Regions from separate parts of the Homo sapiens genome. Here region 1 is linked to region 2. The links come from fine-mapping of genetic effects on gene expression. A gene starts in region 2. The other region holds a variant in brackets. All regions are shown on one strand. Distances are from middle to middle.

Region 1 (15,619 bases), 27 kb after region 2:
TCCTGTAGAAGAGGGAGGAGTAGGTGGTGGGCCTGACAGGTGTAATAGGGTTGCTGGGTGGATGGTCCCAGGGCCCACTGAGGTTGTGATTGTAGGTTTTAAGTGAGACCATCAACATGTTGTATTTTTGTTCAGCCATATTCAGTTGCTCAGGTGCAGGAACAGAGCAGATGGGGAGTTGGATCTAATTAGGTTCAAGTTTAGCCAGGTAAAATCAGTTGATGAAAAGAAGAAAGTCCGCTGGGCACAGTGGCTCACACCTATAATTGCAGTACTTAAGGGAGGCTGAGGCAGGTGGATCGCTTGAGCCCAGGAGTTTAAGACCAGCCCTGGCATTGTGATGAAACCCCATCTCTACAGAAAATACAAAAAATTAGCCAGATGTGGTGGCACGTGCCTGTAGTCCCAGCTACTCGGGAGGCTGAGGTGGGAGGATCACCTGAGTGGGGAGGTTGAGGCTGCAGTGAGTTGAGATTGCTGCACTGCCCTCCAGCCTGGGTGACAGAGCTGAGACCCTGTCTCAAAAAAATAGGAAAGAAAAGAAAGTATATGCAAGAAGTGATAAGAATGATGCCTCATGGAATCTGAGCTGAGTACGGGAGAGAATGAGGGATAGTGAAACAGTTGGAGGGTTACAAATTATAGGTTTCATTTGGAATTGGGCTACAAAGGGTGATCAGAAAAAATCAGTAGTGGTTGGAGACTGGATGGAATTGAAATTACAGGAGAGGTAAACATAAGCTCTTAACTACTCTGCTATGCTGCCTCTGCTGCCCTCAGGGCCTGTGAAAGGAGAGGCTGAGGATGTGCTATAGAAGACTCACAAGAAACAACCGTAGTCAGGTGGGAGGAAGCCAGAGTCTTGGACTAGGCTGGAACAGTGGGAACAGAGTAGAAGAAATAAAAAGAAGAATGGGGGCTTGGAGACAAAGTGACTCCTTTTTCCTGTTGGGCCCAAGTCCTAGGGTGACATAAGGCTTGGTCTCTGGGTATAGCAGAGTCTCTTGGGGTACCCTAGCCAAAGGGTTTTACTGGTTCCCAGGGTGATCCCTGTCATCGCAGAGCTGCTTTCCACCTATGTTTTGTCACAGCATTCGTCTGTTCTGAGAGACTGGACTTCTTTCTGCAGAGAAGGGGAGGAGAGATTGGGGCAGGCCTGTGGCCTGGAAGGAGCCTGGAGGTTAAGACCTCACTTCATGACCGTGTGACCTAAGAGCAGTTTTGCCTCTATTTCTTAACTGGGGAAGCAGAGAGCCGATTAAACAGAATAAAATGAGCTGTGAGTGACAGCACTACAAAGTTAGCAATCACCCGAAAACTTCCATTTTCAAAACCAAACCAGTAGAACTCCATTCTGAAGTCTTAAATTGTAGCATAGGCCACCTCTCTGCCACATGCACATTGTAATGGAGATCTTAGTGCTCTCCTTGTGTGACAGGGTAGGACGGTGGAAGGAGGCAGATGGCAGAGAGAACCCAGCTTCACAGCTCCCTGCACCACCTGAAGCCTTCATTTCCTCATCCGTATACTGGGACTGTTAATACCCACCCAAGAGCTAGATGTGGAATATTCCAGAAATGTTAGTGGATACTCTGTTCTCTACCCCTGAAAGGTTCTGCCATAGCATTTAAGCCTGAAGAGACAGTTTCAAGTCCCTAGAGGGCAACCTGAGGTTAGGGAAAGCTGTCATGGCCACAACCAAAGCCCTGAAGTGAGGAAGCAGCGAAGAGTCTGGCTAACCCACAGGAAGCCTGTGGTGACAGCCAGATGAATGTCACCTAAGTGTCCTGAAGGCACAGAGGGATGTAGGTGCAGAGTCAGAAGAGCTGGGTCTTGGCTGCCCTGACTTCCTGAGGTACCGTGTACAGAATGACATAACTCTGAGACAAGGCCCTTAGAAGAAAGGCAGCACCATTCATTACATAGCCATGTGTATGTATGTAATAGGCACTTTACATTCATACCTCTAATTCTAACACCATTGTTTCTCAAACGGCAGGGCCAGGTCTACACAGAACACACAGGTACCTGCTTATAATGCAGCCTTCCCAGCCACCAGCTAGACCTGCTGAGTCTTAGTTGGGACTGGGGGTGGGCAGGGTAGGAGTCTGTATTTTAATACGCTTCTCCAGTGGTTCTTTGCAGAGGTTGCTTTTATCCATATTTTATAAATAGACTGAAGCCAACAATAATTTGCCCAAGACTACACAGTAAAGGAGTAGGTATTCAACCCAGGTCTGCCTGGCCCCAGAGACCATGCTCTGGCTAGAAGAGAGGATGATGCAGGATACCATAGAAGGAATGTGGGAGCGGGGCTGAGGGGTAGGTCTCAGCGCGGAGGCATCTGGTGAGGAGTAGGTCGGAGAAGAAGAAACGGAGATGTTTACTGGTCATGCCGTTGGAGGATCAGGGACCCACTCTTTTTAAAGGTACTTAAAAAAAAAGACTACAGGCTGGGTGCGGTGGCTCACGCTTGTAATCTCAGCACTTTGGGAAGCCGAGGCGGGCAGATCACGAGGTCAGGAGATCGAGACCATCCTGGCTAACACGGTGAAACCCCATCTCTACTAAAAATATAAAAAATTAGCCGGGCGTGGTGGCGGGCGCCTGTAGTCCCAGCTACTCAGGAGGCTGAGGCAGGAGAATGGTGTGAACCCAGGAGGCAGAGCTTGCAGTGAGCCGAGATTGTGCCACTGCACTCCAGCCTGGGCGAGAGTGAGACTCCATCTCAAATAAAAAAAAAAAAAAAAAAAAAAAGATTACAAAGTCGTATGTGTTCATTTTAGGAAAAAAATTAAGGAAAATCACCTCATGAACTCATCACCTAGAGATAACTTTGCTAGTGTATTTGGATATCTTGCTCATCTCTTCTGCATGTGTGCATGCATCTATGGGCACATTTTAAAGCTGGAATCTTACTGTACATGCTTTATTGAAAGGAACTATTTGTGTAGTTTACTTCTTAGTAATAACTTTTATATATATCTTTTTAATATTACCTGTAAGAAGTCATAGCCAAATATGAATGTTTAGAGCAATGATCATCAAATAGTACAGACAGGCATCAGAATCATCTAGAGCAGAGGGTGGTAAGCTTTTTCTGTATAGGACCAGACCATAAATATTTTAGGCTTTTTGGGCCATGCAGTCAAAATTACTCATCTCCGCTCTTGCAGCATGAAAGCAGCCATAGACAGTATGTAAACAAATGATGTGACATGGCTAGAATTTTTTTTTTTTTTTTTTTTTTTTTTTTTGAGACGGAGTCTCACTCTGTCACCCAGGCTGGAGTGCAATGGCGGGATCTTGGCTCACTGCAAGCTCTGCCTCCCGGGTTCAAGCGATTCTTCTGCCTCAGCCTCCCGAGTAGCTGGGACTAACAGGCGCTTGCCACCACCCCCAGCTAATTTTTTGTATTTTTAGTAGAGATGGGGTTTCACCACATTAGCCAGGGTGGTCTCGATCTTCTGACCTCGTGATCCACCTGTCTCGGCCTCCCAAAGTGCTGGGATTACAAGCGTGAGCCACCACGCCCGGCGACATGGCTAGATTTGATCCCTGGGCCATAGTTTGCCAACCCCTGGTTTACAGAAAGGGTCTGTGACTATTGAGTGCCAACTATGTGTTCTAAAAACTTGAAATACATAAGAGAACAAAACAAAAGATCCTGGCACTCACAGGGCTTATATTCTAACTCCTCTATTAATATACAATAAACATATTAAGTCTGATTATGTAATATGTTAGAAAGTGATCACTACAATGGGAAAAAGAACAATCCAGAGCCAGGCGCAGTGGCTCACGCCTATAATCCCAGTACTTTGGGAGGTCAAAGCAGGCGGATCACCTAAGGTCAGGAGTTTGAGACCAGCCTGGCCAACATAGTGAAACCCCGTTTCTACTAAAAATACAAAAATTATCCAGGCATGGTGGCATGCCCCTGTAATCTCAGCTACTCAGGAGGCTGAGGCAGGAGAATCACTTGAACCTGCGAGGCAGAGGTTGCAGTGAGCTAGGATCGCGCCACTGCACTCCAGCCTGGGCAACAGAGCGAGACTCCGTCTCAAAAAATAAATAAATAAGTAAAAATACAAAAATTAGCTGGATGTGGTACCAGGCAGGTGCCTGTAATCCCAGCTACTCAGGAGGCTGAGGCAAGAGAATCTCTTGAACCCAGGAGGCGGAGGTTGCAGGGAGCTGAGATCGTGCCACTGCACTCCAGCCTGGGTGACAGAGCGAGACTCTGTCTCAGAAAAAAAAGAACAACTAGAGCAGAGTGAGGGTGATGATGGGTTGCTCTTTAAACTAGGATGGTCAGTGTAGGCCACATCTAGAAGGTACGATTTGAGCAATGGCATGAAGGAGGTGAAAAGTTGGTCTTGTAGATATCTGAGGATACGAGTTCCAGGTGCAGGGAACAGCCCATGCAAAAGCCCTAAGTTGGGAATGCGCCTGGTATGTTTCTGGAGGAACAAGATTAGTGTGGGCAGAATGGAGTGAGGAAGAAGAGGTCTACTGTTTGGGGGTCCGAGGGGAGGTTTTTGTTTTCTTTAGAGACAGGGTTTTGCACTGTCAACAGGCTGGACTGCAGTGGCATGATCATAGCTCACTGCAGCCTTGAACTCCTGGGCTCAAGTGATCACCACACCTCAGCCTCCTGAGTAGCTGGGACTCCTTAGGTGTGTACTACCATGCCTGGCTAATTTTTAAATTTTTTTCTAGAGACAAGGTCTCAGTTCACTGTTGATTTCCTCTGGAAGATTTCTGTGACTCTCTTGGAGCCTCTGGGCCAAAGTGCTTCTCCGCTCTTTAGTAACCTGCCTTTTCCGAGGTAATAGTTTAAGGCTGTTTGGCATGGATGTGAAGTTCTTCTCCAGCCTAACCTCTAACAGCCTACAGTGTTCCACCATGTAACTCACTGTTTACTTGTCTAATTCCCTGTCAGTGGGCTTTCAGATTGTTTCTAGGTTTCCATCACTATGACAGCACTGCAGTGAACACTCTTTGCTAAATTTCTGACTGAATCCAAGATTTTTCCTTAGAATAGATTCTTAAAAGTGGGGGCCAGGTGCGGTGGCTCACACCTATAATCCCAGCACCTTGGGAGGCCGAGGTGGCCAGATCATTGAGGTCAGGAGTTTGAAACCAGCCTGGCCAACATGGTGAAACCCCGTCTCTACTAAAAATACAAAAATTAGCCAGGTGTGTGGGGCGTGCGCCTGTAGTCCCAGCTACTTGGGAGGCTGAGGCAGGAGAATCGCTTGAACCTGGGAAGCAGAGGTTGCAGTGGGCCGGGATCACACCACTGCACTCCAGCCTGGGTGACAGCAAGACTCCATCTAAGAAAACAAAAAAAAAAAGTACGATTGGTGCGCCAGAGTGAACACAAAATGTAAAGACTTGTGTATTTGTGAGACCCTTTTGAAGCATGCTATCTCCCCAGCTACACCCTCTTCAGGTGCCCCTTCCCTGCCTCCTCCTGCTTTTCACACTGTGGCTCGTGGTTCCAGGCTCAAGCACGGACATCAGTGAGGACTGGGAGAAAGACTTTGACTTGGACATGACTGAAGAGGAGGTGCAGATGGCACTTTCCAAAGTGGATGCCTCCGGGGAGGTGAGTGGGCCTGGTGGGTCAGAGGGAAGCGAGCCTAATGGTCCTGGGTGTGAGAGCTCTCCCCAGCCAGCCCAGCTGTCCCCTCAGGAGGGTCCCTGCTCCTGTCTGAGGTGACAGGTGGTGGGAAAGGAGCTGGAGCTTCCTGCTCAGACCCACAACATTGGTCATCAGCAGGCTGCACTTTTCCTCAGTTCCAGGGTGGATAGAGGGTCAAGTTCTTGACCTTAGCTCTGTATCAAAATTGCCTGAGAAACTGCTTAAGAAAACAGATGTCATGCTGAGCGCGGTGGCTCACACCTGTAATCCCAACACTTTGGGAGGCCAAGGTGGGAGGATTGCTTGAGGCGAGGAGTTCAAGACCAGCCTGGCCAATATAGTGAGACCCCATTTCTGTTTTTGAAAAAAAAAAAAAAAGGAAAAAAGAAAACAGACATCAAACCCTGCCTGACCTTCTGAGTTGTGGTCCTCAGGTATGAGGCCTGAGTATATACTTGGCCTTGGAGACAAAAGACCAGTGTGATCAAGGGCAAGGGCAAGTTACTTAACCTGAGCCCCTGGTTCCTCATCTAAAACATGGAATTGATCATTATAAGACCTGGCTATAAGCTGTAATGAGGTGATCCATGTAGACACCTTAGGGCTATTGCCTGAGACATGGTGACCAGCACTCAGGAGACATTAGTGATAAACCCCACAAAACCCATTCCAGTTATTAAGCTCAAGGAGGCCTTAGTACTGTTATTCTTCACTACCTCTCAGAATCAAAAGTGGCTCATTTAGATTGAGAGGCTGGAACAGTCCAAAGCTCTCCCAGCTAATAAGTGACAGGACTGAGGCTGCAACCCAGACATCTGATTCATGTCAGCGTTAGTTCCACTGTCACATAAGAACCACATGAGTCCTTCCATCATGTAACTTATGAGCCTGTTAGAAAGAGGTGGACAGATTAGAGAGACATGTGAAGGGCCTCCTTTTTCATGATGGGAAACTGAAGCCTTGGGGGAGTATTTTACCTACTCAGGAGTATTTTGCACTTGTGACTACCTCACTATACCCAGGACAGAGAAAGCCCATAGTGCCCTGTCAGGCCACAGGGGCTTGCTGGCTTTTTGTGTCTTTGCAGCCCCCTTTAAAACCTGACGTGCAGTACACGTGAGCATTCTAGAACCTGCTATACCAGGGCTTAGCCGACAGCAGGCCAAGAGTAGGAACAAAGCAAGAAAACGTTCCGTGGGGAGACTTGAGCTGGGAATTAGGGTGTTGGTGCCCCTAGTGAAGACCTAGTGGGCATCTGTAGGCCACTGCCACCTCTGCTTTTGGCCACAGTGCCACTCAGGCAGTGGCCTCCATTCACCCAAAGACTAAGTAACTTGCCCTTGATTACACTGGTCTTTTGTGTCCAGGGCCAAGTATCTGCTCAGGCCTCCTGAGTTCTCTGCTTCTCAGAGCCATGGCATTATCTGCTCAGCAGGAGGCAAGTTCTCCTTAAAGGACTGAGGCTGACTTGGTTCCTGTAGGCAGCCATCACCTTGTGGTGTCTGGTGTTGGTTGGGGGAAGTGTTTCCTTTAGGTCTGAGGTAATCAGAGCATCAGGCCCACCCCTCAGGCAGAGGGCAGCTCTGCCCCTCAGACACATTCCTTAAGACTAGGGGTTCACTCTCAGTGGGACCTCAGAGTATGGCCTGGGGTAGGGGATGGGAGGTGGCTCTGCTCAGCAAGTGGAGGTTAGGTCTGGGCCTGACTCAGGAGTAACTATGTGTTTGTGATTTCCATTACCCCCTCCCATTTGCAGCTGGAAGATGTAGAGTGGGAGGACTGGGAGTGAGGGAGCCAGAGGGAGCAGCTCCCCCACCCATGGCATCTCTCGCCTCCCTCGCTCGTCTCAGCCCAGCCCTGGAAGACTGAGAATGTTCCCCCAAATCTCCTCTGCCAACCAGAGCTCTGGGCACAGATTCTGGTGGCTCCCTGCTGGCCCTCTTGGGCCTCTGCTCACACCTGGGAAGGGGCTCTCTAAATCCCGGCCAGAAACTCTGACTTGTGCCAACAATAGGATGACCCAAGGGAGAGGAAACCTATCCTCCTCACCAGAAGAGCCTGTGTTTTTCTGCTGAACACCCACTGTTCCTGAGGACTCCTGCTGGGAAGTCCCAAGGGATAGTTCTAGCCCTTCTGCCTGTGTAGACAGAAGCTAAACCACCAGTCTCTCTCGGAGGAAGCTGAGACAACATACTCTGTCCATACATAAGCAGGCAGGGAGGGCCATGCCACCTACCCTTGGCTAAACAGGGACAGTGAACACATTTTGGTTCCTATCCCAGTGGGTAAGAGGCACTTATCTCTGGGAAATTTGCCTCTCTTGGGACTCTCCCCCTCCCAGGCATTTTCCATTCCTGGAAAGGCTCCTTTGGGGTTCAGAATCCAGAGACCAAACCCTGACCCACCTCCTTCCTTTCCTCCAGCCCACGCTGGTCTGTCCCCATGCCTTCCCAGGGCTTCTTCATGTC[G/A]GATGCACCCAAGTCCTTAGCCCAGCTGTGCCACCTGCAGGAGTTCGCTCTTGCGTTTCTTCCCCTCCCCAAGAAGGGAGGGGGCTACTTCAGGCCCTTCTGTGTGTTGCCTGGCAGGATACCTTGTCCAACCAGCTACCCACCTCAACTCCCCTGTAGTTTAGGACACAAAACAGCTACCAGCGGTACAGAGCGGTGATCAAAGCCGAGTACTTACAACTCTGGTAAGCCTAGCTTCTCCGCCTCAGCCCTTCTGCTTCTGGAAGGGCTATCCTGGGGGTGAACTTGAAACTCTCATCAGGCTTCTGCAAAAGCTCTTCTTCCTGAAGACAGACCCAGCCTTTGTGCTCTCACCCTCCACTCTGGTAAAGCTGCACCTCTGGGGGAATGAGGGGCTGCAGGAATCTCTGGAGAGCCTGGTGCTTCACGATGCTGCTCTGGTGATTCTTGTACCTAATCTGGTGTGCTCACCAATGAGTGAAAGGGATCGTGGGTCAGGGACACCGAGAGAGTGAGGTCACTTCCACTTCAAACCTTCAGTGAGGGGGTGGGATGGAGAGAATGCTGAATCTTTTTTTTGACGGGATGGGGTTTTTCTCTTTGTAATTATTTCTTTAGTTTAATTAACCTTTTGGTTGTTTGTGCAATATTATATATTTTAAATTATAATGCATCTCCCCAGAGTATTTTGTAGCTGGGAAAAGAAAAAAGGAAAAAAAGAAAAAAAGATTCTAACAGCTGTTAGTTTTATAATTAAAAAAGAAAGAAAAAAGAACTTTGTCCTGAACCTTTTACAGACTTGCCGTTAACAGCATTAAAGTGATTCACCCGAAGCTGAAAGGTGTCTGGGGGTCTGTTTTTGTCCCCTTGGCAGCTGCACTGGGCCAGGGCAGGACTGGCTTCCCACTTGGAGCCAGAGACAGGGTAGGGGGATAGCCTAGGTCCAGAGGACGTACCTTGTCCTCATCCCAGATTCAGCTTTGCCTTTGGGATGAGAAAGGGTCAGGGCTCGCAACAGGCCTCTCACTGGGACAAGGAGTCGGGAGGCCATCTCTGCACTCCCAGTGCCTCTGCTTTCCTTTGGAAAGGAAGTTGCAACAAGAATGGCTTCAGTTGCTCTTGGTCATTTTTATCCTCTCTTCCCCCTGTTTGTATATGATTCTTGGGTCTATTTTAATTAACTTTAGTATGAAAATCACTTGTCATGCCAGGCGCAGTGGCTCATGCCTGTAATCCCAACATTTTGGGAGGCCAAGGTGGGTGGATCACTAAGGTCAGGAGTTCCAGACCAGCCTGGCCAACATGGTGAAACCCCATCTCTACTAAAAATACAGAAATAGCCAGGCGTGGTGGGAGGTGCCTGTAATCCCAGCTACTGGGGAGGCTGAGGCAGGAGAATCGCTTGAACCTGGGAAGCAGAGTTGCAGTGAACTGGAATCGTGCCACTGCATTCCAGCCTGGGCGACAGAGCAAGACTCTTAAAAAAAAAAAAGGAAGTCTGAATGAGGCCCTTTGATTCCATGAAGATCTCTAAAAGGAAAGAGTAGTAGTAAGGCTGGGGTAGATGTAGGTAAGTTTTAGGATAAGTAAACTTAAAGCGTAAAATATATATCACCATTTTAGAAGCGGGTTTTTGGGTTTGCTTTCTCCCCCTACTTTATTGGAGAGCACTTGCCATTGCTTTTATCAAGTGCTTGCTAGCCATGGATGCCAACTAACTTCTTCAATTGAAGGCCGGAGGATCATATCGGGTTCCAGGAGCCTCTTGAGCAGGTCCTGGCAATCGGCCGAGATGCTCAGATGAGTGGGGAAGGACACCCCCTTCTGCTGCTGCCACAGCATCTTGGGGATGTCTGTGTCGTCAAAAGGTAGGCTGGCACAGAGCATGACATACAGGACCACACCCATGCTCCAGACATCACCTTTTTTGCTATCGTGGGGAATGCCCTGCAGCACCTCGGGGGCAGCATAGGCTGTACTGCCGCAGAAGGTCTGGCTCAGCTCCCGGTGTGACTTGGGCAACACCTTGGCAAAGCCAAAGTCAGTCAGCTTCAGGTTGAAGCCCTGCAACAAGGCGTTCTCACATTTGAGGTCCCGGTGGGCCACACCACAGCCATGGCAGTAGCGGATGGCCTCAACCATCTGACGGAAGAGGGCCTTGGCCCGGCTTTCAGGCAGTGGCCCCCCATTCAGCACGCAGTCAAAGACATCCCCTCCCTCAGCGAGCTCCATCACCAGGCAGATTTTCCCGTCGGCAGACTCCAGCATCTCATACACCTGGATGATGTTCTTGTGGTCCAGGGTACGGACGATTTGGAGCTCCCGAGGGAGGAATCTCTGGATAAACTCTGAGGAAGTAAGGGGAGGAGAGATGGGCTGGCAGATCAGAAAGGCCCACCTCCTCACACCTGTCTCCTGCCTTCCAACTTCTGCCCACCTTGTCTGGGTCTTATTTCTTGGCTTTCTTAATGGTCTTAAGTGTGTCTAGCTGCTTGGACATTGCAAAGAATGTTCACTTCTATTATTTTTGTCGTTAGTATATCATTCAAAAGAAGCACTCCCCACCAGCCTTGTGGACTGTTGTGAGCAGTCTGTGAGACTGGATATCAAGGTGCTTTAGGGACTTTTAGACAAAGCCACAGAATCACAAATTATAAGGCCTGATTTGTCCACAGGGTGGTGAGCCAGCTCCTCCCGCCACTGTCCCCTGACCCCACAATTCTTTCCATGAGCCCTGTCTTCCTTTTTCCCATCTCCACGGGCCTTGGCACCAGCCCCTGTTCTCTACCAGCCCTGGTTGTGGCCTCTGCCAGTCTCTGTTCCCCTGCCGGAAAGGAAAGCCTGGCTCAGGTTTTGCCTCTGAGGATCCTTCACCTCATGCCACTTTCATCTTGCATTCTGGGGGGGTGTAATGTTCCTGGACTCCCAGAACCCCTCTGTTCCCCACTGACCCACTCCAGAGCTGCCATCGGGCTTGCTTGGTTCCAGGCCAGCGGGAGCAGGGAATGATCGAATGATCGTTCTAACAAACAGGAGGAAGCACCCACCCACCTCAGCCAGTCCTCCCTCCTTCCCTCCAAAGGGGCCCCGGCTCACCTTCTGGCCCTCCCATCTTGTCTATAACTTTAATTGCCACTTTTCTTTGGTGTTTTTTGGAAAATGCTTCTTTGACTTTTGAGTAGGTCCCTTCCCCAATGGTCTTGCCCAGCTGGTACCCATTGGAGAGCAGAAAGTCCTCCATGCTGTCTAGCGCCGCCTTCCTATCACCCTCTCAGCTCATGCTGCCTCTGAGAGGCAGCTCTACTCCACCATCGCCCTTGGCCTGCTCCTTTTCTCCCCAAGGACTTCATCCGCAGCCGCCCCCAGCGTTAGAACATTCTCTGTCTGGACACAGCGGCGGGTGGTGGGGAGGGACAGGGCCAGACATTTTTAAACTCCGGTGCAATTGTGATGTAGATGCTGTGTGACCCTTGGCCAAAATGGGCAGTGCCCCTACCTGCCCTCACTACCACCACCAAACTCAGCCCGGATTAAGTCACCGCCGAGCCCGCCCCCGTGCCAGGCATTGAGTTGTAGTCCCGCCTGGGAGGGCGCTCCGCCGCGTCTGTGTGGACCGGGAATGCGCGGCTCCTCGGCGTGGACGCCGCCTCGCGGCGGGTTGCCCTGGCCTGCTGCGCCCCCCTCGGGTGTCCGGGGTCTGCGCGACCCCGTCTCCAGGCGCCATGGCCAGAGGCCTCCAGTCCCCGATTCTGGCCCGCGCTGAGTGCCAGGGGCGGCAGGGGGCACCGTTGGGGGTTCTCCAGTGGGAGGAACGTGCTCTGTGAGGTCAGCGCGCCGCGGCCCGGGTCACAATGCTGCCCTCCTCGACGCCCGGGCCCGGGCACGCCACAGAGACCTGCCCGGCTCCGCCTGGACCGGAGCGTTCTCCCGCGGCCAGGGCTCCGGCAGCTGCTTCTAGCCTGGGACCGGTCTCAACCGCCGGGAGGTGAGCGACGGCCCAGGGGGCGGGCGCGAGGCGGCGGCGCCCGGCGACCCGGGAGAGGCCTGACCGCCACTCCCCGCGCAGAGCGCCCCGGGGCTTGGACATGAGCGCCCAGGAGCCCCCGCAGGGTCGGAGATTCCCCATTGAGGCCGGAGACTCCCGTGGCCTTGCCGCCGCCCCCGAGTCCCAGGACAGCCCGGAGGCGGTAGCGACGGAGCACAACCCGGTCAGGTAAGGCCCGCGCCCCACCCCCGCCTCCGCCCGTCCCGCGGCCCCGCCCTCCGTCCCACTTGGCGCCCCCAGCAGTCAGGACCCCGCATCCACGTCCGGACCCCCGGGGACCCCAGGTGCACTCCCTGGGTGCGCCCCACAGGATGGGCCAAGCCCCTGCCTCAGCGGCCCCTGTCGCGCGTCAATTTCCCCAGGCCGCTTCGTCGCTGCCCTGGATGCCACTGCCTGACGCTGCTGCACGTGCCCATCGACGTCTACCTCGCCATGGGCGGGAGCCCCCGGGCCCGCGCCACGTGAGTGCGCCTGCTCCCTGCGGCTCCGCGGGAGCTGGGCGGGAACGAGGCCCCCAGCGGGCCACCACGCTGAGGTCGCATGCGCCGAGCACGAGACAATGATGCACATTTTAAAATAAAAGAATGATGCACATTTTAATAAAGCACAGCACAAACTGTTCTTTCCACTCCGGGCTGGCAGTGTATGTCTATCCGTCGGGCCCACCAGCTGCTCTGCCCAGTCCAATAACACTTTCCCTTCCGCAGCCTCCTCGTTTGGACCCAGCCTTAGGGGCCCGCCCTTCCGCCTTTCAACCTACGCCACTTCACTCCTCTCGTATCTTGCTGGTCCTGACCCCTCCTGGGCAGCCTTTCCCTTGGGCCCTGCCCTGGTCCATCTCTCTAACCCTCTGGTGATTCTCCGGTGAAATTCACATCACTGTGCTGGACCCTGGCAACCCACAGAAGCGGGGAACAGGAGGAAGAGGTGGACCGACAAGTAACATAGAATACAGCCATAGGCCACCCACACCAGGCTATCTATCTATCTTATCTATCTATCATCTATCTATCTATCTATCTATCTATCTATCTATCTATCTATCTATCTATGAGATGGAGTCTCGCTCTGTTTCCCAGGCTGGACTGCAGTGGCATGATCTCTGTTCACTGCAACCTCTGCCTCCCAGGTTCAAACAATTCTCCTGCCTCAGCCTCCCAAGTAGCTGGGACTACAGGCACCCGACCAGACCCATTTTAATCCTCTCGAGCGAGAAGTTCTGCGACAAAGTTCTGCGACTTGCTCTTTGTGGCCCTAGGTGCCTGGGACCTTCCTTATTGGAAGGGTTTGGAGCTGCCCCAGTCCATCCTGAGCCTTGGTTTCTCCCAGGACTGAAGTGATCATAAAAAGATTGGGGAAGAGGCCATTTGAAAAATGGTGGCTTGCCAGGCGCGGTGGCTCACGCCTGTAATCCCAGCACTTTGGGAGACCGAGGCAGGTGGATCACAAGGTCAGGAGTTCGAGACCAGCCTGGCCAACATGGCGAAACCCCGTCTCTACTAAAAATACAAAAATTAGCTGGGTGTGGTGGTACGCACCTGTAATCCCAGCCACTCGGGAGGCTGAGGCAGGAGAATTCCTTGAACCCAGGAGGCAGAGGTTGCAGTGAGCTGAGATCATGCCACTGCACTCCAGCCTGGGCAACAGAGCAAGACTCTATCCAAAAAAAAAAAAAAAAGAGAGAGAAAGAAAGACGTTGGTTTAACTTCCTATTTTACAGATGAGTGAACTGAGCCTTTGAGACTTACCCAAGGTCCCCCAATGAGAGTCTAGCACACTCCTCAGCATCCTGAGACCACATGACCTAAGATCTGCCCTCGGAGGGGCCCATGACAGGAAGCCTGCCTGGAGGTGCTAGTATTTAAGCTAAACAACTATTTCCTACTTTCCAATTTGGCTTTAATGAGCCCGTATATTCTACTTTCCAATTTTGTTACGGGGGGAGTGTAACCTAAAGGTCAGGTTCAGTCTCCTGTCCCCTGAGATCTAAGGACAATTGATTCAACACCCTCCTCTAATCCTCATAGGGTAGAGAAGTCCAAGCTTTCCCTAGAGCACCTTAAAATTCCACGTCACCCAAAAGGGATACCCTTCTCAGTTTCCACATAAAATGCTCTCCCAGGCAGTCCCCATGTAGGAGGCTTACTAAAAGGGCCTATTTCCTCACTGGTTTAAAAAAAAAAGGCATCAGCTGGTCTCTTTGGACTCTGCCAGCCCCCAAATAGTGAATCCTTCTCATTCTTCCTTTTTTTCCATCTCTCCCACTTCCTTCTCCTCTCTTCTCAACCCTCCTTTCCTTAAAAAAAAAAAAAAAATAGGCCAGGCATGGTGGCTCAGGCCTGTAATCCCAGCACTTTGGGAGGCTGAGGCAGGAGGATCACTTGAGCCCAGGAGTTCAAGACCAGCATGGAAAACAGCAAGATCCCATCTCTAAAAACAAAACAAAACAAAAAAACCAGGTATGGTGGCGTGTGCTTGTAGTCCTAGCTACCGGGGAGCCTGAGGCAGGAAGATTGCTTGAGCCCAGGAGTTTGACGCTGCAATGAGCCAAGGTCACACCACTGCACTCCAGCCTGAGCAACAGAGTGAGATCCTGTCTCTAAAAAAAATTAGGCTGGGCATGATGGATCACGCCTATAATCCCAGCACTTTGGGAGGCCGAGGCAGGTGGATCATGAGGTCAGGAGATGAAGACCATCCTGGCTAACATGGTGAAACCCCGTCTCTACTAAAAATACAAAAAAATTAGCCAGGCGTGGTGGCGGGAACCTGTAGTCCCAGCTACTCGGGAGGCTGAGGCAGGAGAATGGTGTGAACCCAGGAGGTGGAGCTTGCAGTGAGCTGAGATCGCACCACTGCACTCCAGCCTAGGTGACAGAGTGAGACTCCATCTCAAAAAAAAAAAAAAAATTTAGAAACCAGTTACTGCCACATCCCACGTACCTGATTTGTGAGGGATACAAAGATTCTAGACGCAGTCCTTGCCAATGGGGCTAGTTAGCTCTAGAATGTCCATGAGCAAGAGAAAGGGCATTCCCTTTGGGGAGGAAGCATTGTGGGTAAAGGCCTGGAGGCAGGAAAGTGAAGGACAATTTCAAGAAACTCAGTTCATCAATTTTCATCAACACCTTCCTGGGCCATGCCTGGTACTGAGAACCCAGCCCTGAATCTGACATCATTTTCCCTTTCAGAGCATAGAATGCAGGGGATCCAGGAATGGGTTAACAGAAGAGAAGCTGGATCAAGGAGACCTTTGCGTACCAGGTGAAGGAGTTTGAACTTTGTTCTGCAGGCAGGCAGAGCACGACAGGCTCCTACCTGGGTCACTTCATTCTCCTATTTCTCTTCTCTTCCATCCTGTTCTGTTTCTTCTTACTCCTTTCCACTGGAAGAGCCACTGGCCGAAACTAGTGCTGAGTTCAAGTCCTAACTCTGCTGTTTCTCTAACTGTGCAGT
Region 2 (15,619 bases):
ACAGGGTCTCCCTCTGTCACCCAGGGTGGAGTGCAGTGGCTCGATCCCTGCTCACTGCAACCTCTGCCTCTCAGGCTGAAGTGATTCTGCTGCCTCAGCCTCCCAGGTAGCTGAGACTACAGGCGTGAGCCACCACACCCGGCCAAAATTCCTGAAATGTTAACAATCAGCTCTAGAGGGCTGAACTAGAACCAGTCCATGGGCTTTTAGGCATTCCCTGTGCTGCCTGCATCAGTAACTTAGGCATTTTGGTCTTACACTGGGTTCTACAAATTACGCAGCCAGTCCTCCTGCCAACTCTATGCTGGAATCTGCACGCCAAACCGAGGGCGGGCTTGGGCCTTGGAAATTTCTGAAAGGCTTGAGTCACCTCCCAGGATTATCCCAGGCCTAGCAGCCTTCCACGGAGGAACCCCACCCTGTCCAGAGGAGCCAGAAGGCCTCTCCTAGGAGCCGGGGAGATAGGGAGCCGGGGAGCCCGGGAGCCAGCTTCCCGTGAAGAATGAGTCCACAGCACCATCTGGTGGCACCTGGGTGTCAGGGCTCCTTGGGAGCAAAAGCCAGGATCCTGGGATAAGAATCACCTGCCAATTCTAATGGGGTGGGTAGGGGGAGTAGGAAAAAAATCATCTGCCAAAAGGGGTCCAGCAGTGTCAGAGGGGGGATTTGAGTCAAAGGAGGGTCTGAGGGTGTGGGATTTACCTGCATTCATACTTTGCCTAAGAGCTGCAGGAGACTGTAGAGGCCCCAAGGACAGTGAAAAAACTGAATTTCAGAGAGAAAAAGTGACAACTGCCCATAAACCAGTATTAAAATCTAGCTCTGCTGACTCCCAAACCAGTGTTCTTTCAACATACTGTTTAACTCAACAGATGTCCATTAGCCCTCTACCAGCGCCTAGCATTGTATGAGGCTCTGAGGACAGGGGTAAGGAGGTAAGACAATCATAATCCCTACATGAGGACTTTATGCCTTGCAATGTGCTAGGTGTTTTATTTATTTTCTTTAGTCATTACAACAACCAGAATTAGTATCCCAATGTTAAGGATGAAGACATTGGCCGGGCACAGTGGTTTATGCCTGTAATCCCAATACTTTGGAAAGCCAAAGCAGGTGGATCGCTAGATCCTAGGGGTTCGTAGACCAGCCTAGGCAACATAGCAAGACTCCATCTCTACAAAAAAAAAAAAAATTAAATTAGGCATGGTGGCACATGCCTGTGGTCCCAGCTACTCAGGAGGCTGAGGCAGGAGGATCACTTGAGCCTAGAAGGCTGAGGCTGCAGTGAGCCATGATCATGCTAGTGCAGTCCAGCTGGGGTGACAGAGTGAGACCTGCCTCAAAAAAAAAAAAAAAAAAAGGATGAATATGTTTGATGCCAGAGGTTATGGCAGTGAAAGGAGCCAACGGTCAAGGTACTGGGGTGAACAGATAAGGAAGACCAAAGAAACCCAAGCAAAGGGTCCCACTGAATCCACAGTCACTAGGGACATCATGGGCGAGCACTCTGCTGGGCCTGGGGGTGAGGAATGAGACAAGGTGAAGATAACGAAGGACAGGATGCCTGCAGCTATCATCTGGGTGGGGAGGCAGGACATAAGGTTGGAAGAAGTTAAGACTAGCATGAAATGCACAGAAGCTTGATTTTATTAGACAGCCTTGGGTTCAAATCCGAGTTCTGCCATTTCCTAGCTGTGTTACCTTGAGAAAGTCACCCCATATCTCAGAATCTTAGCTTTTTCACTTTTATTTAAAAAAAAATAATAGAGGCCGGGCACAGTGGCTCATGCCTGTAATCCCAGCACTTTGGGAGGCTGAGGCAGGCGGATCACCTGAGGTCAGCAGTTCAAGACCAGCCAGGCCAACATGGCGAAACCCTGTCTCTACTAAAAATACAAAAATTAGCTGGGTGTGGTGGTGCACGCCTGTAATCCCAGCTACTCAGGAGGTTGAGGCAGGAGAATCGCTTGAACCTGGGAGGCTGAGGTCGCAGTAAGCCAAGATTGCACCACCGCACTCCAGCCTGGGCGACACAGTGAAACTGTCTCAAAATAATAATAATAATAATAGAGATAGGGTGCCATTATGTTGCCCATACTGGTCTCAAACTTCTGGGCTCAAGCAATCCTTCCATCTCAGCCTCCCAAAATGCTGGGATTACATGAGTCACCGTGCCTGGTCACCTTCTTCATTTATAAAATGTAGATTAAAAATAGTTCCCACCTCATTGAGCTTTTGGGAAGGTACACTGTATAAAGTGCTCACCCCAATGGCACCGTTAGATCTGTTAACAGTAGCATTCAATCATTTGATCACATCATCTTCACAACACAAATCATTTCCTTATTCCAAACCTTTGGTGACTCTCCTCTGTCCATGAATTTTAAGTCCTGCATTCAAGGCTCTCAAGAATCGAGATGTTAATGACCTTTACAGCCTCACGTCCATCCTCTCTTTTCCTTTTTCTTTTTAGCTATTCCAGATTGCTCTAAATTAGTCCTGTCTTTGTCCTCACTCTCCTTGCATTTATTCTTTCATTCACTGAACAAATATTGAGTGTCTATTATGTACCAAACACTGTTGTAGGTGCTAGCCGTAGACAAGTGAACAAGACAGACAAAAATCCTGCCTTCATTGAGGTTGCATTTCTAGTCTGAAGGAGGCAAACAATTTTTTAAACAAAGTATAATATACAATATGTCAGAGAAGAGAAATGGGGGTGCTTGTTATGCAACTTGTGATTTTAAATAATGTGGTCAGGGTGAGTAAGAAGATTATATTCAAGTAAAGATCTGAATGAGGTGAAAGTTAGAAGCACATAAATATCTGGAGGTAAGTGCAGTCTAAACAAAAGGAACAGCAAGTTGAAAGGCCCCAAGTCAGGAGAGTCCCGGGAATTTTCAGGGAATATCAAAGTAGCCAATGTGTCTGGAGCAGAGTGACTAAGGGGGCCAGTAATGTGAGGTCAGATCAACTATACGGGGCCTTAAAGGAGACTGTGAGGACTTATTGGCTTTTTCTCTGAGTGAAATAAGAGGACATTGCAGAACTTTGGGCAGAGGAAGGCTGTAATCTGGCATGTATATACATATACATATATATATATATACACACACACACACACATGTTTTTCTTTGTTTTAAAGACAAGGTCTCTCCATTGCACAGGCAGTAATGTAGTGGCATGGTCACAGCTCACTGCAGCCTCAACCTCAAAAAATTAGCCAGGGCTGGGTATGGTGGCTCATACCTGTAATCCTGGCACTTTGGGAGGACGAGGTGGGTGGATCGCCCAAGGTCAGGAGTTCAAGACCAGCCTGACTAACATGGTGAAAACCTGTCTCCACTAAAAATACAAAAATTAGCAGAGCATGGTGGTGGGCACCTGTAATCCCAGCTACTTGGGAGGCTGAGGCAGGAGAATCGCTTGAACCTGGGAGGTGGAGGTTGCAGTGAGCCAAGATTGCTTGTCACTCCAGCTTGGGTGACGAGAAAGAAACTCTGTCTCAAAAAAAAAAAAATTAGCTGGGCGTGGTGGCATGCGCCTGTAGTTTCAGCTACTAGGGAGGCTAAGGCAGGAGAACTGCTTGAACCCGGGAGGCAGAGGTTGCAGTGAGCTGGGATCGTGCCATTGCACTCCAGCCTGGGTGACAAGAGCAAAACTCCATCTCAAAACAAACAAGCAAACAAACAAAAAACCACCAAATATCTGTTTGAGTACTTGCCTTCTATTCTTTTGGGTATATACTCAGAAGTGGAAGTGCTGGATCATATGGTAATTCTGTTTAATTTTTTTGAGGAAATGGCATATTGTATTCCATACCAGTTGCATTCCCAGTGACGTATGTCTTTTAAAAGATTACTTTCAGGCAAATGAAGACTAGACTTAAGGAAGGCAAGAGTGGATGCAGAAATATTTGTTAAGAGGCTCTTGTAATTAACCATGAGATTGATTATGGTAGCTTGTATCTACATAATAACAGTGGAGGTGGTGAGAAGTCACTAGATTCTGGTTTTGTTTGAAAGGCAGAGCCAACTGGATTTGCTGATGGGATTAGTTTGGGAGTATGAAAGAAAGTGAGAAAGCAAGGATGACTCCTAGGTTTTTGGCTCGAGCAACTGGAATAATGAGGTTCCATTTACAAATGTGGGAAAGTTTGCAGGAAGATGAGGTGGATAAATCAAGAGTTTGTTTTGGGACATGTTAAAAATAATACACCTATTACACATGCAAATAGACAAAATGAACCTGATGTTCAGAGAAAATGTATGGGTTGGAGAGGAAATTTGAGAGCCATCAGCATATACATGGCATTTAAAAGTATGAGATTAGTGAGATGGCTCACACCTGTAATCTCAGCACTTTGGGAAGCCAAGGTGGGTGGATCACTAGAGGCCAGGAGTTTGAGACCAGCCTGGGCAACATAGTGAAGCACTGCTAAAGAAAAATTAAAAGTAAGGCAACACAGGGAGACCTCATCTCTATTTAAAAAAATAATAATAGCTGGGCTTGATGGTGCATGCCTGTAGTCCCAGCTACTCAGGAGACTGAGGCAGGAGGATTGCTTGAGTTCAGGAAGTCAAGGCTGCAGTGAGCCATGATCGTGCCACTGCACTCCAGCCTGGGCAACTGATATGGTTTGGCTCTGTGTTCCCACCCAAATCTCATCTTGTAGCTCCATAATTCCCACGTGTTGTAGAAGGGACCTGGTGAGAGATGACTGAATCATGGTGGGGGCGGGTTTTTCCCGTGCTTTTCTCATAATAGTGAATGGTTCTCATGAGATCTGATGGTTTTAAAATCGGGAGTTTCCCTGCACAAGCTCTCTTCTCTTGTCTGCCACCATGTGAGATGTGCCTTTCACCTTCCTCCATCATTGTGAGGTCTCCCTGGCCATGTGGAACTGTGAGTCCAGTAAAACTCTTTCTTTTGTAAATTGCCCAGTCTCAGGTATGTCTTTATTAGCAGTGTGAAAATGGACTAATATGGCGACAGAGTAAGATCCTGTCTTAAAAATAAAATAAAATGGGCCAGGAGCAGTGGCTCACGCCTGTACTCCCAGCACTTTCAGAGGCCGAGGTGGGTGGATCACCTGAGGCCAGGAGTTCAAGACCAGCCCGGCCAACATGGTGAAACCCCATCTCTACTAAAAATACAAAATTAGCTGGGTGTGGTGGTGGGTGCCTGTAATCCCAGCTATTCTGGACGCTGAGGCAGGAGAGTCATTTGAACCCAGGAGGCAGAGGTTGCAGTGAGCCAAGATCATGCCACTGCACTCCAGCCTGGGCAATAGAGTGAGACTCCATCTTAAAAAATAATAATAAATAAAATCATGAGACTTTATGAGAATATCTGGGGAATGACTATAAACATCAAAAAGGAGGAGGACACCAAGGGCTGAGCCTTCTCCCAGGGAATATCCCATTCCAGCAACAAGAAGGCGGTGAGAAAACAGCAAAGAATACTGAGATGCCAATGAACGGGGAAGAAAGTCAAGAGGGCATGATGTCCTGGAAGCCAAATGAAGAAAGTGGTCAACTGTGTCAAATAAGATGCGGATGTAAAACAAGAACTGAAAAGTGGCCATTCCTCTTGGCGACCTTAAGAAAGTTATGTCAGGCTGGGTGCAGTGGTTCATGCCTGTAATCCCAGCACTTTGGGAGGCTGAGGAGGGCAGATCACCTGAAGTCAGGAGTTCGAGACAAGCCTGGCCAACATAGTGAAACCCCATCTCTACTAAACATACAAAAATTAGTCGGGCATGGTGGTGCACAACTGTAATCCCAGATACTCGGGAGGCTGAGGCAGGAGAATCGCTTGAACCCGGGAGGCAGAGGTTGCAGCGAGCTGAGATTGCACCACTACACTCCAGCCCGGGCAACAGAGCAAGACTCTGACTCAAAATAAATAAATAAATAAAATAGATGTTTCCGTCTTCCACAGGGAGGACCAAAAATAAATAAATAAATAAAATAGATGTGTCCGTCTTCCACAGGGAGGACGTGGGATGGTGGCGGAGCTGGCTGCAGCAGAGCTACAAATAAATATAAAATAAATAAAATTAAATAAAATTAAATAAATAAAAGAAAGTTATTTCAAAGGATTGTCTGAGAGGCAAAAACCTAACTGCAGTGAGTTCAAGAGAGAATGGGAGGAGAGGGGAGTTGCAGACTGTGAGTAGGCAACGCTTTTGCTGTAAAGGGGAGTAGGGAAACGGTGAGGGATATAGAGAGGGCTGGTTTTTGTTTGCCTTTGAGATGGGAGAAACAGCAGTACGGATGATGACAAGGATAAATGCAGTCATCAGAGGGAAAAGAGATGAAGGGGGGATTACTAGATCTATGTCCTTAAGCAAACAAGAGGCGATGGGATCTACCGCACACGTGGAGGGGCTGACCTTAATTAAAGTCCAAAGTATGTGGGCTGTGGAATCTCCCTTCCAATCGCAGTAGAACTCAATCCAGGCGGTCTCCGGATTTCTCCAGACCACCTCCACCTGGCGTTGTTCTGAGCTGGGCCACCGAAAGTTGAGATTACTGAATGTGTGTGTCTCCCATTAACCCGTAAGCCCTCCAAAGGCTGCATCTAAGTCGCCTCTGAATTATTCACATTCCTCCAAACTCTGGGCCACAGCCCCGCAATATGGGCTTATTGAATTAGCCCAAAGAGACACAAAGCAGCCTCTACGCAGCTGGTTTCACAAAGGGGGGCGGTCCTAACCCTGCGCTCTGGGATCCTGACGTTCGAGCTATCTCTCCTCCTCCCCTCTGCTCCCAGCTCTCCGCAGTCCAGCTTGTCGGCTGATCATCGTCCATAGAGGCCACCGTACCCGACGTTTGCGGACAGTGACAAAGAGTCAAGCTTGGTGGAGCCTGAGGACAGGACTGAATGACGATTGAACTGAGAGTTCAGGGGCGGAGTTTGAGGGCGAACTCGGGACAGAGACTGGATAGAGTTCAGGGAGGCGGGACCTAATGATGGCGCAGGGAGGGGATTGGGCTGAGGGCGGTGCCGGCGCGAGGATTGGGCCGAGCGCCTCGGGGGCGGTCCTTGAGGGGGCGGTGCCGTGTCGGAAGTCAAAGGTCAGTAAATAGTGGTGATGTCATGCAGGCAAGATGGCGGAAGGGTGAGCTTGTCGTTTTGCTCCTAGGCGTTGGGGCCTGAATTCTCCCAGGGTTGGGGTGCTGGGCGAGAGTCCCGGTGGGGAACGTGAGATCAGCGGGGGCGTGGACTGATCTGAAAGGGCAGAGTGGAGTCGCATTGTGAGGGGGTGGGCAAGCGGTCTGCGAAGCCTCGGCCCGCAGGGTACATCTGAGCGGGGAACAAACCGGATCCTTGGGCGGGCAGGAATCGCACCGCGGTGCTGCCAGATGTGTCTGTCTTCCACAGGGAGGACGTGGGATGGTGGCGGAGCTGGCTGCAGCAGAGCTACCAAGCAGTCAAAGAGAAGGTAAGCCGGGCCCGTGCCCTTCTTCCCTCAGCAGGGCCCTGCGCCGCCTCAATGCAACCTGGTCCAACCAGCCCCGCCCAACTTTTGCGGGCGCTAAGTCTCAAGGATGAGGCTGACCTGGGCCTTTCTTTTAGCCTCTACCGGTCCACGGGAAGACAGACCTCGACGCAAACCAGTGTGATACTAGCCACAGTGAAATAAAGATGGTTTTAAAGGCTGGAGTTAACGAACGTTTTGTAGGAATCCATAGGAAGGAGCAATTTATTCCAGCTCAGGAAATTCAGTTTCTTCGTGAAAGAGAGAGCATTTGATACAGGTCTTGAAGGAAAAGATTCTAGCAGTAAAAAAACTTACTCGTATAGTCATTCAAATATTAGAGTATATGCGACAACCAGCACTCTGATAGGTCTTGAGGATACAGACTTCAGCCAAACAGATGTAATCCTGGGCCTTACAAAGCTCACAGTCTAGTGGAGAGACAGCCATTAACCGAGTAGCCAAACAAATAGTTGTTTAGTTACCGTTGTGGTAAGTTCTGTGAAAGGAAAGTACAGGGGCACCTTGTCTGTTCTGGTTAGTCAGTAACTCACCAGGGAAGGCCCCTGTGGAGAAGGAACCTCATCAAGGGCAACCCTGCCTAGACAGGATGAAAAGCAAGAACCCAAGCCAGAGATGAGCATGAGCCATACACACTGGTGCCTGATGAGTTCTAAGTAGGGGCTATGCAACGGGCAGTAGAGAGAGAGAGATTAATCACCAGAGAGTGGAAGGCCTTCTTGCTGAACAATCTCTGTGGGATGAGTGATATTTGGCTGTGCCAGTGGGTAATTTGCCAATGTGTATTCCTGTTTCATTTCATGCTTATTTGTCAAAATCAGCCCAACTGAATTGTGGGAAAAGTTGATTACTATTTACCTCAAGCAATTGGGATGAGTCCTGCTTCAGGGCCAACTCCAGGAAGCTTCTGACCTCACCTAAATAAGTCCTCTACTCTGGGAGTATTTTTGTTTTGTTTTGAGACAGAGTCTCACTCTGTCACCTAGGCTGGAGTGCACAGGTGCGGTCTCAGCTCGCTGCAACCTCTGCCTCCCAGATTGAAGTGATTCTTGTGCCTCAGCCTCCCGAGTAGCTGGGATTACAGGCATGTGCCACTACTCCTGGCTAATTTTTGTATTTTTAGTAGAGACAGGGTTTCACCATGTTGGCCAGACTGGTCTCGAACTCCTCACCTCAGGTGAGCCACCTGCCTCAGCTTCCCAAAGTGCTGGGATTATAGGCGTGAGCCACCACACCCAGACATCTGGGAGCGTTTTTATTCCTCCCTTATCCTGGGTACTCCTGGACAGCCTCTCAGCAATAGCCCAGCAAATCTGAGAATGCCCTGAGCTGTTTATGTTGTTGATGAGGACTGAGAGGCTTGCACCCTAACATTTGATAGAAGAGACCCGATAGTAGCATATTTCCTGTTGGGTAATTTCCTGGCAGGAAAGTCTGACATTCATTCAGCAGATGTTGCATGAGGGCCTCCTGTGTTTGTCTCAAGGTTGGTCTTATCATAACTTATGAAAAATAGATAGTTGGCCAACCTTCCGTCTTCATTCTTGGAATTCCCAGTTAAAAGCTGGGGTGGGGGTGGAGGTGGGAGTTGTTTATGCCTTTTTGGAAAGAAAAGACGTAATTTCCCTTTTTTTACTTTCTTACTCTTATATGTACTTGGGCAAGTGTTTTTTGTTTTTTGTTTGTTTGTTTTTGAGACCAAGTCTGGCTCTGTTACCAGGCTGGAGTGCAGTGGCTCAGTCTCAGCTCTGCAACTTCCGCCTCCTGAGTTCAAGTGATTCTCCTGCCTCGGCCTCCTGAGTAGCTGGGATTACAGGCATGTGCCACCACGCCCAGCTAATTTTTCTATTTTCAATAGAGACAGGGTTTCACCATGTTGGCCAGGCTGGTCTCAAACTCCTGACCTCAGGTGATCCGCCTGCCTCGGCCTCCCAAAGTGCTAGGATTACAGGTGTGAGCCACCACGCCTGGCCTCTTGGGCAAGTTTTTAACCTCTCTAGGCCTCAGTTCCTCATCTATAAAATGGGAATACTAACAATACCTACTTGATGAGATTGTGGTGATGGTTAAATGTTAATATATGTAAAACACTAAGAACAGTACCTAGCATACAGTAAGTGCTATATAAGCATTAGCTGTTATTAAGTGCTGAGGCTGATGGGAAAACCTCTTAGATACCACCCCCAGTTCGTTTTTCCTTCCATTTTTTTTCTTGGTCTTTTGGTGCTTTCCTATCTGTATGTCCCATTCTGGCTCCATCTGGACCACTCACTTCTCAGCACTCCTTAGAACACATTGCCCTGAAGACCACAGCTATGAGATGGTGCTATCATCTGCTTTCCTCTGCTCCTTACCTCCTCCTGTCCTGTCTTCCTGTGTGTTGTCAAGGGCAATATGACTGACACAAATACGTGTGCATACACGTTGATAGAGAAAGGCATATCATTGCTCTACATACTTACCAGAAAGAAGAAATTAAAAAGAGAAAGGCACCAAATGCTTTTTGGTTCCATCACAGATTCCCCAACCTCATCTGGGCCCACATACTCTTCAGTCTCCAATTTGCTTCTCCTCCCCTTAACTTCAGAAACTTTCCCAAAACCTAACTCTTCCCTGGGGTCCCCTATTCAGCCGCTTTATCCCTTTCACTTCCAGGAGACAACCTCATCTACTTTTTGAAACTTCAGGTGAACAAACAGGATCTTTAACTCTCTCCCCACCCTCAAAGCCACCACCTATAAACTTATCTTTACTCAGTCAGCTTTACCTACTGCTTGCCAAATCCAGTGGGTGGTTTTCAGCCCTTATCTTCCTGGACCATTCTGCTGCATTTGACGCTAGTGATCACTCCCTCTCTTGAAACGCTACTCTCTTGGCATTTGTGACATGATTCTTAAGTCTCCACATACTTCTCCAGACGTTGCTTTTGTAACTGTCTCATGAGTTCCTCTTCCTCTGCTTGCCCCCTACAGGTAGTGTCTGAGGACACTTGTCCTCAGCCCATTGCTCTGTCCACTTTCCAAACTCTTCCTGGGTCACCTTCTCCACTTTCCTGTTAGGGCGACTCTTAGACCTTTTGCCTGAACTTTAGTGTTGTGTTTTGCTTTGTTTTGAGATGGGCTCTCACTTTGTCACCCAAGCTGAAGTGCAGTGATGCAAACATGGTTCTCTGCAACCTCCACTTCCTGGATTCAAGCAATCCTCCCACCTCAGGCCCCCAAGTAGCTGGGACTATAGGCGTGTACCATCACGCCCAACTAATTTTTGTATTTTTTGTAGAGATGAGATCTCGCCATGTTGCCCAGGCTGGTCTCAAACCCCTAGGCTCAAGCAGTCTGCCCACCTTGGTCTCCCAAAGTGCTGGGACTACAGGCATGAGCCACCATGCCCGGCCAGCTTTAGTGTTTGAGGATAGCTATTGCTGGACAGCTATCCTAGACAGCCCACAGTCATCTCAAGTTCTGCGTGCCCAAAGTCATTGTTACCACCTTGTCTCTAGGACTGCTCCTCCTCCAGGATTTTCTCACTTAGCTGGCAGTACTGCATCTACGCAGTCACCTATTTTAGCAGCCTGTGGTGCTTCCATGATTCTTTTCTAGCCCTCAGTCAACATACCTGTTCAGTCACCAAATCCACCTTCTTCCATCTCCTGTATCTTGAACCAGTCTCATCCTCTCCATCTTTACTAGCATTGTCCTTACTCACATTTTTCTATTTTCTTTCCTGGATTATTGCAGCAGCCTCCTGACTGGTCTTCCTTCTTCCTCTTCTAATCTTCTCGCCTCTGGACCTTTCCTCCATTCCAGTCACTGGAGTAATTTAGTGAAAAGGCAAATCTCATGTCCCACCCACTTCAAACCTTTGGTGGCTCCCCATCATCCATAGGGCTGACCAGGCTCTCCCTGGTTGCCCTTGGCAACCTCTCCAGCTTTATCCCTCACCACTCTTGCTTCACATTTTATGTCCATCAGGACTGTAATGCTTGTAGACGTCACTAAACCCATGTCAACACTTCTTAGCTGACTCCTGTTCTTTTTTTTTTTTTTTTTTGAGACAGGGTCTCACTCTGTTACCCAGACTGGAGTGCAGTGGCATGATCACAGCCCACTGCAGCCTCAACCACCCAGGCTCAGGTGATTCTCCCACCTCAGCCTCCTGGGTAGCTGGGACTATAGGCGTGTACCACCACTTCTGGCTAATTTTTTGTATTTGTGTGTGTGTGTGTGTGTGTGTGTGTGGAGACGGTTTTGCCATAGTGTCCAAACTGGTCTCAAATTCCTGGGCTCAAGCAATCCTCCTGCCTCGGCTTCCCAAAGTGCTGGGATTACAGGCATCAGCCACTGCACCTGGCCCACATCAATACTTCTTAACCAACTCCTGTTCATTCTTTAAGGGCCCATTCCAGGCTTCTGGTCACCACATCTTCCCAACCTCCCCATAGTACAGCAGCTACTGCTCTGCCCTTGCACATCAGCACTATCATGGGACCATTTTCCCCAGTAGACTGTGACCTGCTTGAGGGCAACGTATGTTCATGTTTGTCTGCTCAGAGCTCACAGTCTAGCGGGAAGACAACTGTTTAGTCACACAAGTGGTTACATAATTGAAATTTCAATGGTCCATGTAAATTTAACAAGCAAACATTTTTTGAGTACCTACTGTATGCTCTGTGTCAGATACTGGGGAACCATCAGGGAACAAAACACATAGGACCTGTGTTCACACAACTCACAGTTTATCCAGGAAGACAGACATTGAACAGGTCATCTGAAGTCTAAACTATGTTCAGTGTTAGAAAAGAGATAAATTGGGAGGCCAAGGTGGGCGAATCATGAGGTCAGGAGATCGAGACCATCCTGGCTAACACAGTGAAATCCCGTCTCTACTAAAAATACAAAAAATTAGCTGGGCTTGGTGGCGGGCGCCTGTAGTCCCAGCTACTCGGGAGGCTGAGGCAGGAGAATGGCATGAACCCGGGAGGCAGAGGTTGCAGTGAGCAGAGATCGCGCCACTGCACTCCAGCCTGGGTAACAGAGCGAAACTCCATCTCAAAAAAAAAAAAAAAGAAAAAAAAGAAGAAGAGATAAAGCAGGGAGAGCCAGCTGAGCCTGAAGAGGCAGCAGGAAGCCCCTCTAGGGAAATGAAGCATAGACGTTGAGGATGAACAGGAGTTTTCCAGATAAGAGGGTTCCTTCATCGTGTTTACAGACTTGGTTTTTTTGAAGAGTTAGAACTCTGTATCAGGGAGAGGAAACAATGTGTTCAGATACTCTGAGGCAGGACAGATGCTAGGGCATTTTAGAAACTTGAGGAAGGCCAGCTGGAGCTCAGTGAACGGCACAGTGGTAGGGGATACCAGTCTGCCAGAGGCCAAGTTATATAGGCTTTGTAAGTAAAGGTGGATTTTCAATTTGCTCTTAGGATAGTGTGTAAACTTAAAGAGTGTAAAGCAGCACGGTCTGCCCTGACAGACAAAGCACCCACTGGGTGTCATAAGGAGAATGAAGTAAAGGTGGCTGAGACAACCTGGGAGGAATCCAGGTGAAAGAATAAGTTGGCCTGGACTAAGATGGTGGCAGTGTGGATAGAAAGAGTGAATCGGTAAATGACCCAGGGCACAATTTCATGGTGCTGTGAAATATTTTTTAAAATTTTAATAAAAGTAAATAAGTAAATGACCTCCTCCACCCCCAATTAAGGAGTCCTGAGTTGATATGGAGGCATGATTACCACCCCTAGAGAAGCCTGTAGCTGATAGACTGTGCCATTCAGAAACTTCCCAAGCTAATGAAAAGTGGGCAGGCCCTTCCCAGAAGAACAAACCACAGGAGCGCTCAAAAACATGCTTTAAAAAATGCAGGTGATTATCCCCGTGTAAGATGAAAGGGCTTGCAGGGGGAGTGGCCACTGAGATACTCCAGGAAGCATCCTAGAGTTGGTGAGTCTGAAGCAAGACAGGGCAAGACCTAGAAGTGAGCTGAGGGTCTGCTTTCTCAAGTGAGGTCTGGGTGCAGGCTGAGAAACAGATTGGTTTAGCAGGAGCAAATATGCATTCTGCCCAAAGGAGCTTTGTATATGAATAGAACCTCGGGATGGTAGAACCAAGAAGGCCTCCAAGAGAATCTGATCTAGTCTTTCTCTTGACCGCTTCCTCCTTTGTTGAATGTAAAAAATCACATGCCTTTTTACTGATATTAAATTGTTAAGAATTACTCATAAAATAGCTTTCCAAGCTATTGCTGTTACTAATACAATTAGTAATTACTAATTCTTAAACCCGAAGGCAAATAACTTCACATACTGCCTCATATTTCAACTCAATTTCTCTGTAACAAAAAAAGTAAAAATAGAAACACTTTCCTTTGATAAAAAAAATCACATGCCTTAGGCTGGGTGGCTCACGCCTATAATCTCAACACTTTGGGAGGCCAAGGTGGGCGGATCACCTGAGGTTGGGAGTTCGAGACCAGCCTGACCAACATGGAGAAACCCCATCTCTACTAAAAATACAAAATTAGCTGGGCGTGGTGGCGCATGCCTGTAATCCCAGCTACTCGGGAGGCTGAGGCACGAAAATCGCTTGAACCCGGGAGGCGGAGGTTGCGGTGAGCCGAGATCGTGCCATTGCACTCCAGCCTGGGCAACGAGAGCGAGACTCTGTCTCAAGAAAAAAAAAAAAAAATCACATACCTTTTTTTCATGTTATTTGAAACTTGGTATGAATATCGTGATTTAAAGCATATCAAAGCAATTCATCAAAGTCAGTATTGTTTTCAGACTATGCCCCCTCTTTTCCTGTTTGCTCTTGAGAATCTCTGATCTAGATCACCTCATTTTACAGGAGAAAACTGAGAACTAGATGAGACTTACTCATGGCCACATAGCTTGCGAGTGCCTAGGCTGAGACTCAGTCCTCATGCTCAGAGTAGCAGGAAATTCCCCTGCACTCTCTGCTGTCAGGTAATCCCAGATCATGGAATTGGGACAAATGAGCATTGTTTCTGAGCCGAAGCTCCCCTGCCGCTGGAGATTTCCATTTGTCTGTCTGGTACTGAAGAAACACAGGGAACAGGAACAAGGGGTGGTGGGGCCAGCTGGCCCTGGCATCCCTCTCTGTCTTCCCACAGTCCTCTGAAGCCTTGGAGTTTATGAAGCGGGACCTGACGGAGTTTACCCAGGTGGTGCAGCATGACACGGCCTGTACCATCGCAGCCACGGCCAGCGTGGTCAAGGAGAAGCTGGCTGTGAGTACCACCCAAACCCTCCCAAGTAACTGCCCCTCGCAACCTGTCCTGTCCTGGGCTCCCAACCTTTCTACCATTAAGTGATTATTTTTCCATATGGGGAAAAATATGTGGATTACTTTTCCTCCCATTTTGAAAGAATTGTGTCTGGCAACCAAACAAGCTGCATATTTTAAGTAATAATTAGTTTTCCCACTTCTGTATTGTTTTAGCAAATGTTTTCCATTAGCAAAGTCATTCATGTTGACAATTTAGAAAACACAGACAAGTGAAAGAAAAGAGAAAGAATGAGAAAAGGAAGAGAGAGAGAGAAAGACCTAGAGACATCCATAATTCCATCTTCCAAAGATAGCTACTGTTAATATTTTGGGGGTGTATCACTTATGTACACTTCTTTTTCAAAACTGGGGTCAATTGAACACCATGTTTTGTAACCTATTTTTTTTTTTTTTTTTTTTTTGAGTTGGAGTCTCCATCTGTCGCCCAGGCTGGAGTGCAGTGGCGCCATCTCGGCTCACTGCAAGCTCCGCCTCCCGGGTTCATGCTATTCTCCTGCCTCAGCCTCCCAAGTAGCTGGGGCTACAGGCGCCCGCCACCACGCCTGGCTAGTTTTTTGTATTTTTTAGTAGAGACGGGGTGCACCGTGTTAGCCAGGATGGTCTCGATCTCCTGACCTTGTGATCTGCCCACCTCAATCTCCCAAAGTGCTGGGACTACAGGCGTGAGCCACCGCGCCCAGCCCTTATTTTTTTACTTAAACTGCAAACCTTATTCTAGAGTGTAGTAAGTGGCATGGTATTCCATTATGTGGATTTAACCAGTTGCTGCTTTCTTACTTCAGTTTTTTCCAGTATTGTACACTGAGCTA

Evidence for each region.
Region 1: its variant is fine-mapped to the expression of BSDC1 in whole blood (TOPMed, PIP 0.95).

Annotation. Positions count from the first base shown.
Region 1 is chr1:32,358,442-32,374,060 of GRCh38, reverse strand. TSSK3 (testis specific serine kinase 3) reads right to left here and starts at 11,522. Exons shown (of 2, transcript NM_052841.4): 1 at 11,215-11,522; 2 at 9,749-10,466. The coding sequence starts at 11,359. The coding sequence ends at 9,805. It overlaps BSDC1 (BSD domain containing 1), which reads left to right. Exons shown (of 11, transcript NM_018045.8): 10 at 5,511-5,614; 11 at 7,407-9,428. The coding sequence ends at 7,439. FAM229A (family with sequence similarity 229 member A) reads left to right here and starts at 11,576. Exons shown (of 3, transcript NM_001167676.2): 1 at 11,576-12,103; 2 at 12,185-12,331; 3 at 12,526-12,791. The coding sequence starts at 11,970. The coding sequence ends at 12,628. LOC124903933 (a long non-coding RNA gene) reads right to left here. Exons shown (of 3, transcript XR_007065642.1): 3 at 12,733-15,619. RefSeq lists silencers at 11,645-11,844, 11,995-12,294. The variant G/A (reference allele first, on the strand shown) is at 8,119.
Region 2 is chr1:32,385,911-32,401,529 of GRCh38, reverse strand. BSDC1 (BSD domain containing 1) reads left to right here and starts at 7,089. Exons shown (of 11, transcript NM_018045.8): 1 at 7,089-7,126; 2 at 7,390-7,450; 3 at 14,635-14,751. The coding sequence starts at 7,116. RefSeq lists enhancers at 5,261-5,956, 6,704-6,783, 6,655-7,350, 7,074-7,363, 7,351-8,048 and 1 more.